Homo sapiens: one gene and its partner. The protein of the gene in region 1 purifies or fractionates together with the protein of each later gene. This does not show direct contact. Each region holds a gene or a part of one and is shown on either strand. Other genes may lie near its edges.

Evidence for each region.
Region 2: the proteins of BSN (region 1) and UNC13A purify together in Homo sapiens (affinity purification with western blotting, with the first as the bait; one study listed by BioGRID). This does not show direct contact.

Annotation. Positions count from the first base shown.
Region 1 is NC_000003.12:49,651,969-49,655,784, forward strand, and holds part of BSN (protein bassoon), read left to right. Parts: coding exon 1-3,816. UniProt on the Homo sapiens protein: Scaffold protein of the presynaptic cytomatrix at the active zone (CAZ) which is the place in the synapse where neurotransmitter is released.
Region 2 is NC_000019.10:17,681,583-17,685,398, reverse strand, and holds part of UNC13A (protein unc-13 homolog A), read left to right. Parts: intron 1-3,816. UniProt on the Homo sapiens protein: Plays a role in vesicle maturation during exocytosis as a target of the diacylglycerol second messenger pathway.

The DNA of each region.
Region 1 (3,816 bases):
GACTTTGGCAGCCAATTGAGGCACGACTATGTGGAGGACAGCAGTGAGGGTGGCCTGTCCCCTCTTCCACCCCAGCCCCCAGCCCGGGCAGCAGAACTGACTGATGAGGATTTCATGCGACGGCAGATTCTCGAGATGAGCGCCGAGGAAGACAACCTGGAGGAGGATGACACTGCCACCTCCGGGCGTGGCCTGGCCAAACATGGCACCCAGAAAGGTGGCCCCAGACCCAGGCCTGAGCCTAGCCAAGAACCAGCAGCACTGCCCAAGAGGCGCCTGCCCCACAATGCCACCACGGGCTATGAGGAGCTGCTCCCTGAGGGAGGCTCAGCAGAGGCTACCGATGGCAGTGGGACCCTGCAGGGTGGGCTCCGTCGCTTCAAGACCATTGAGCTCAACAGCACGGGAAGTTATGGTCATGAGTTGGACCTGGGCCAAGGCCCAGACCCCAGTCTGGACCGGGAGCCTGAGCTGGAGATGGAGAGCCTAACGGGCTCCCCTGAGGACCGCTCCCGTGGTGAGCACTCCTCTACATTGCCTGCCTCCACACCCAGCTACACCTCGGGCACCTCTCCCACCTCTCTGTCCTCCCTAGAGGAGGACAGTGACAGCAGCCCCAGCCGCAGGCAGCGTCTAGAAGAAGCAAAGCAGCAGCGCAAGGCCCGGCACCGCTCCCACGGGCCCCTGCTACCCACCATCGAGGACTCCTCAGAGGAGGAGGAGCTGCGGGAGGAAGAGGAGCTGCTTCGTGAGCAAGAGAAGATGCGGGAGGTGGAGCAGCAGCGCATCCGCAGCACGGCCCGCAAGACCCGGCGGGACAAGGAAGAACTGCGGGCCCAGCGGAGGCGAGAGCGCTCCAAGACACCACCCAGTAACTTGTCACCCATCGAGGATGCCTCCCCGACGGAGGAGCTGAGGCAGGCGGCCGAGATGGAGGAGCTACACCGCTCCTCCTGCTCTGAGTACTCACCCTCACCCTCCCTTGACTCTGAGGCTGAGGCCTTGGATGGTGGCCCTAGCCGGCTTTACAAGTCAGGCAGTGAGTACAACCTGCCCACCTTCATGTCCCTCTACTCACCAACCGAGACACCCTCCGGCAGCTCCACCACTCCCAGTTCCGGACGGCCGCTCAAGAGCGCTGAGGAGGCTTATGAGGAGATGATGCGCAAAGCTGAGCTGCTCCAGAGGCAGCAAGGCCAGGCAGCAGGGGCCCGGGGACCCCATGGCGGCCCCTCTCAGCCCACAGGCCCCCGGGGCCTGGGCTCCTTCGAATATCAAGACACTACAGACCGTGAGTATGGCCAGGCTGCTCAGCCTGCCGCAGAGGGCACGCCAGCCAGCCTGGGAGCAGCCGTGTACGAAGAAATCCTTCAGACATCACAGAGCATAGTCCGCATGCGGCAGGCCTCCTCACGAGACCTGGCTTTTGCTGAGGACAAAAAGAAGGAGAAGCAGTTTCTAAATGCTGAGAGTGCATACATGGACCCAATGAAGCAAAATGGTGGCCCCCTTACCCCTGGTACCAGTCCCACCCAGCTCGCTGCCCCTGTGTCCTTCTCTACCCCCACCTCCTCAGACAGCAGCGGGGGCCGAGTTATTCCCGATGTCCGTGTCACTCAGCATTTTGCAAAGGAGACTCAGGACCCCCTCAAGCTGCACAGCTCTCCTGCCTCCCCCAGCTCAGCCTCCAAGGAGATAGGCATGCCCTTTTCCCAGGGCCCTGGGACCCCAGCCACCACAGCTGTGGCTCCTTGTCCAGCTGGGCTGCCACGAGGATATATGACTCCAGCCTCCCCAGCAGGCTCCGAGCGTAGTCCTTCACCATCTTCCACAGCCCACAGCTATGGACACAGCCCAACCACTGCAAACTATGGGTCCCAAACTGAGGATCTACCCCAGGCCCCCAGTGGCCTTGCTGCAGCTGGACGAGCTGCTAGAGAGAAGCCCTTGAGTGCGAGTGACGGTGAGGGTGGCACTCCTCAGCCTTCCCGGGCATATTCCTACTTTGCAAGCTCCAGCCCACCTCTCTCCCCGTCTTCCCCCTCAGAGAGTCCCACATTCTCCCCTGGCAAGATGGGCCCAAGGGCCACAGCAGAGTTCTCTACACAGACGCCAAGTCCAGCCCCTGCCTCAGACATGCCACGGAGCCCTGGTGCCCCCACTCCATCACCTATGGTAGCCCAGGGTACACAAACACCACATCGACCCAGCACGCCTCGCCTGGTGTGGCAGGAGTCCTCTCAAGAGGCTCCCTTTATGGTCATCACGCTGGCATCTGACGCCTCCAGCCAGACCAGGATGGTACATGCCAGTGCCTCCACCTCCCCGCTCTGCTCACCTACTGAAACCCAGCCCACCACCCATGGCTACAGCCAGACAACACCTCCGAGTGTGTCTCAGCTGCCCCCAGAGCCACCTGGGCCACCTGGCTTTCCACGGGTGCCCAGTGCTGGTGCAGATGGGCCCCTGGCACTATATGGCTGGGGTGCCCTCCCTGCTGAGAACATCTCCCTGTGCCGGATCTCCTCTGTCCCTGGGACGTCTAGGGTTGAGCCAGGCCCCAGGACCCCTGGCACTGCAGTGGTAGACCTCCGTACAGCTGTCAAGCCCACTCCCATCATCCTCACTGACCAGGGCATGGACCTCACCTCTCTTGCTGTGGAAGCGAGGAAGTATGGTCTTGCCCTGGATCCAATCCCAGGACGGCAGTCGACCGCCGTGCAGCCCTTGGTTATCAACCTCAATGCCCAGGAGCATACCTTCCTTGCTACTGCCACCACCGTGAGCATCACCATGGCCTCGTCTGTGTTCATGGCTCAACAAAAGCAGCCTGTGGTCTATGGAGACCCCTACCAGAGCCGCCTTGACTTTGGCCAGGGTGGGGGTAGCCCTGTGTGCCTGGCCCAGGTCAAACAAGTAGAGCAGGCTGTCCAGACAGCCCCATACCGAAGTGGGCCCCGGGGAAGACCCAGGGAGGCCAAGTTTGCCAGATATAACCTACCCAACCAAGTAGCTCCTCTGGCCAGAAGAGACGTTTTGATCACTCAGATGGGCACCGCCCAGAGCATTGGCCTCAAGCCAGGCCCAGTGCCAGAGCCAGGTGCCGAGCCCCACCGGGCCACCCCTGCAGAGCTGCGGTCACATGCTCTGCCAGGTGCCAGGAAGCCACACACAGTGGTGGTGCAGATGGGAGAGGGCACAGCAGGCACTGTGACCACACTGCTCCCAGAGGAGCCTGCGGGTGCCCTGGACCTTACCGGGATGAGGCCTGAGAGCCAGCTGGCATGCTGTGACATGGTCTACAAGCTCCCCTTTGGCAGCAGCTGCACTGGCACCTTCCACCCGGCCCCCAGTGTGCCTGAGAAGAGCATGGCAGATGCTGCCCCACCTGGCCAAAGCAGCAGCCCCTTCTATGGTCCCCGGGACCCTGAGCCTCCTGAGCCCCCAACCTACCGGGCACAGGGGGTGGTGGGGCCTGGGCCCCATGAGGAGCAGAGGCCCTACCCACAAGGCCTGCCTGGTAGGCTGTACTCCTCCATGTCTGACACCAATTTGGCTGAGGCTGGCCTCAACTACCATGCCCAGAGGATCGGGCAGCTCTTCCAGGGTCCTGGACGAGACTCGGCTATGGACCTCAGCTCACTGAAGCACTCCTACAGCCTGGGCTTTGCGGATGGACGCTACCTAGGGCAGGGCTTGCAGTATGGCTCAGTCACGGACCTGCGTCATCCTACAGACCTTTTGGCTCACCCGCTTCCCATGCGGCGCTATAGCTCAGTGTCGAACATCTACTCAGACCACAGGTACGGCCCACGG
Region 2 (3,816 bases), on another chromosome or scaffold:
CAACATGGTGAAACTTTGTCACTGCTAAAAAATAAAAAAAATTAGCCAGGTGTGGTGGCGCGCACCTGTAGTCTCAGCTACTCGGGAGGCTGAGGAAGGAGAATCACTTGAATAGGGGAGGTGGAGGTTGCAGTGAGCTGAGATCCTGCCACTGTACTCCAGCCTGGGCAACACAGTGAGACTCTGTCTCAAAAAAAAAGATTCACTCATGTCCTAACACTCAGACATGTACCCATACATATCTGTTAAGGTCCCCAACCCCATGAAGCACATATATATTCATATAAGCACATGTCAAAGCCATGTGTGTATGCACATGACAACACTTGCCTGGACATTCAAAGCAGCCCCTTTCAACAAGTGGATGATGATGCATACAAGTAAATACACATTTGAGTATTTCATTGCACACAAGTGCATACATGTATGCAGATAAACAAATACAGCTGCCACAGAACTGCATCCATGTACACATGCAAACATCAATATGTGTGTTTTCCACCTAACATATCACCCACAAGCTCACACACACCAGTGTGTCTCTGATGTAGTGACACCCCACTCCTAGACACACATGTGCAGACTCCCACCTGCACTTAAATGGTGCACATACTCTGCACACATGCACACTCATATCCATGTAGAGGCAGGCACCTGCCTGCCCTGGTAAGATGAGCCAACTACTGCTGCAAATACCCAAGCAAGTACAGGCAAATGCAAGCTCTTGTGTATACACCCAGCACCAACACATAGCAGACCACCCTGTATGGTGTATGGGCCTTATCTCTGCCCGCTTCATTTATTTATTCATGTGGTGCCCCGCTGCTTCCCAACATCGTAATCCACTGACTAGGTCTTGGCAGGATCCTGAGGCTGTGAATGGTAAATGCCACCTGGTTCCTTCATGAAGTCACTTATTTTATTTATGCAACAAGCATTAATTGAGCACCTACTGTATACCAGGCACTGTTCCTGGCTCTGGGACCCAGCCCTATTCCTAGCCATCACTCCTGCACGTCCCATGGGGTTAGAATGAAAGAGATGAGGGAGGGCTAAGGGAGCTGAGGAGTGGGGTATCCAGGGCTCTCTTCCTCTGGGAAGCCTACCCTGATTCCACCACCACCATTTACTTGAGTCTCAGAAGATGTGATGAGGGGGAGATGAGCAGGAGGGAGATGGTGCTCTGGGTGGAGGGAACAGCATGAGCAAAAGCATGGTGGTGTGAAGGGTTACTTCCAGATCTTCCTATGTGCCTCACAGCATTTTGCACAGGCCACTTGATGTTTTGTTTTGTTTTGAGACAGAGTCTCACTCAAAGCCTGTTACTCAGGCTGCAGTGCAGTGGCATGATCTCAGCTTGCTGCAGCCTTGACCTCCAGGGCTCAAGTGATCCTCCTGCCTCAGCCTCCCAAGTAGCTGGGAGTATAGGCATGCACCACCACACCCGGCTGACTTTTTTCTTTTTAATTTTTTGCAGAAGCAGGGTTTTGCCCTGCTGCCCAGGCTGGTCTTGAACTCCTGGGCTCAAGTGATTCACCCTCCTCAGCCTCCCAAAGTGCTAGGATTACAGGTGTGAGCCACCACGCCCAACTGATGTTTTAAAGGCTCTATAAACATGTTATGAATAAATGACATGAACAAATCAGTGAATTTAGGTGAGGGTGGGTTTGCTTCACAACTTACAATAATATCAACAACAAACCCCATTTATCCAGCTTTTTTGTTTGTTTGTTTGTTTTTTGAGACACGGTCTCACTCTGTCACCCGGACTGCAGTGTAGTGGTGTGATCTCGGTTCACTGAAACCTCCACCTTCCAAGTTCAAGCGATTTTCCTGCCTCAGCCTCCCGAGTAGCTGGGATTACAGGCACGTGCTACCACACCTAGCTAGTTTTTGTATTTTTAGTAGAGATGGGGTTTCTCATCTCTACTAAAAATACAAATACATCTCTAGTGGCCAGGCTGGTCTTGAACTCCTGACTTCAAGTGATCCTCTTGCCTCGGCCTCCCAATGTACTGAGATTACAGGCTCGAGCCACCGTGCCCAGCCCAGCATTTCATAGGCATGATGTTAAGGATTTTTATGCCCATGCCCTCTTTAACTCTTACAGTAGCCCCATTGTACAGATGAGGAAAACTGAGGCTCAGGGAGCTTTAACAACTTGCCTGGTGGAACAGAGCCAGAGGTGGAGCTGACTGACTCTAGAGCCTACTGGGGTTGGCAGAAGTTTGAGCCTTCTCTCAGACCCCAGGACCTCGGAGACAGCCAAGTCCCTTCTGTGGAGTGATGTTCTGCCCTGGGATTGCCTTCTTCTTTCTATTTATTTATTTATTGGAGACAGAGTCTGGCTCTGTTGCCCAAGCTGGAGTGCAGTGGCACAATTTCAGTTCACTGTAACCTCCTCCTCCCGGGTTCAAGCAATTCTCCTGCCTCAGCCTCCTGAGTAGCTGAGATTACAGATGCACACCATCATGCCCAGCTAATTTTTTGTATTTTTAGTGGAGATGGGGTTTCACCATGCTAGCCAGGCTGGCCTCGAACTCCTGACCACCAAGTGATCTACCTGCTTTGGCCTCCCAAAGTGCTGGGATTACAGGCATGAGCCACTGTGCCCAGCCAGGATTGCTTTCTTCTCTCATGCATCTAGTAAACAGACATGTCACAATCTCTCCATTCATCGGGGCTATTCCCCTGCTCCTTGCCTAAGAAGCCTTCACACATCCCTCCGTTCCTGGCTACTCAGTCCCTGATACCCTCCAGCTAGGAGGAGCTGCATCTAGGTCTTAGCTCCTACCGTTCTCATGGGATGCCCTCCAGAGTTGCATCTTCAGGGCTGCAGCCTAACCCTTTCCCTAACCTGGCCTCACTTTTCTTCCACATACAATGGACCTCTTCTGCAAGGTGCCAATAAGGGCATCCTGGGTCCAGCAGGCCTGAGTGTGAATTGCTAAGTCCACCACTTCCTGGCAAGTCTCACATCCTCTGCATTCCTTGGTGTGCTCATCTGTGGAATGGGCACAGGAGTAGCATCCACCATCTACGTTTGCCAGAACTCTCTAATGAGGCTTGCAGAGCCCCTGGCATGACTCCTGGCCTACGGGAAGGCCCAATAATCGTGAGCAAAAGACATGAAAAATCAATGATGGGCCGGCCCCGGTGGCTCACGCCTGTAATCCCAGCACTTTGGGAGGCCTAGGCGGGCAGATCTCCTGAGCTCAGGAGTTCAAGACCACCCTGGGCAACATGGTGAAACCCTGTCTTTACTAAAATACAAAAAAATTAGCTGGGTATGGTGGCGCGCGCCTGTAGTCCCAGCTACTCAGGGGGCTGAGGCACGAGAATCGCTTAAGCCCCGAAGGCGGAGGTTGCAGTGAGCCGAGGTCGCGCCACTGCACTCCAGCTTGGGCTACAGAGTGAGACTCCGTCAAAAAAAAAAAAAAAAAAAAATCAATGATGATGTTTTTATTAATGGAGACTAAAAGCTTTCTGGAAGGCGGTTCTGAGTGCAGGACATTTCTGAGAGTCCACTGCATTCTGGGGCCCGAGGAGCGCTCCAAGAGGGGTCCCCCAGGGCCACTCCAGGAGGGAGCCTAGTTCGTTGAGGGTACACGGGTGGGACCGAGCATTCAGCACCGTGGACAGCGCCTGCCCGCGCCTCTGGGGGACAGCTCTTAGCTCAGCCTCCCAGGATTAATGGAGGAGGTGACGTCATTCCTTCCGTGAATTACTATTTAATGAGCACCTACTATAGGCTAGGCCTACTTCTAAGTGGTTCATGGTAAACAACACACACACAAATCCCTTATTCCCGAAGCT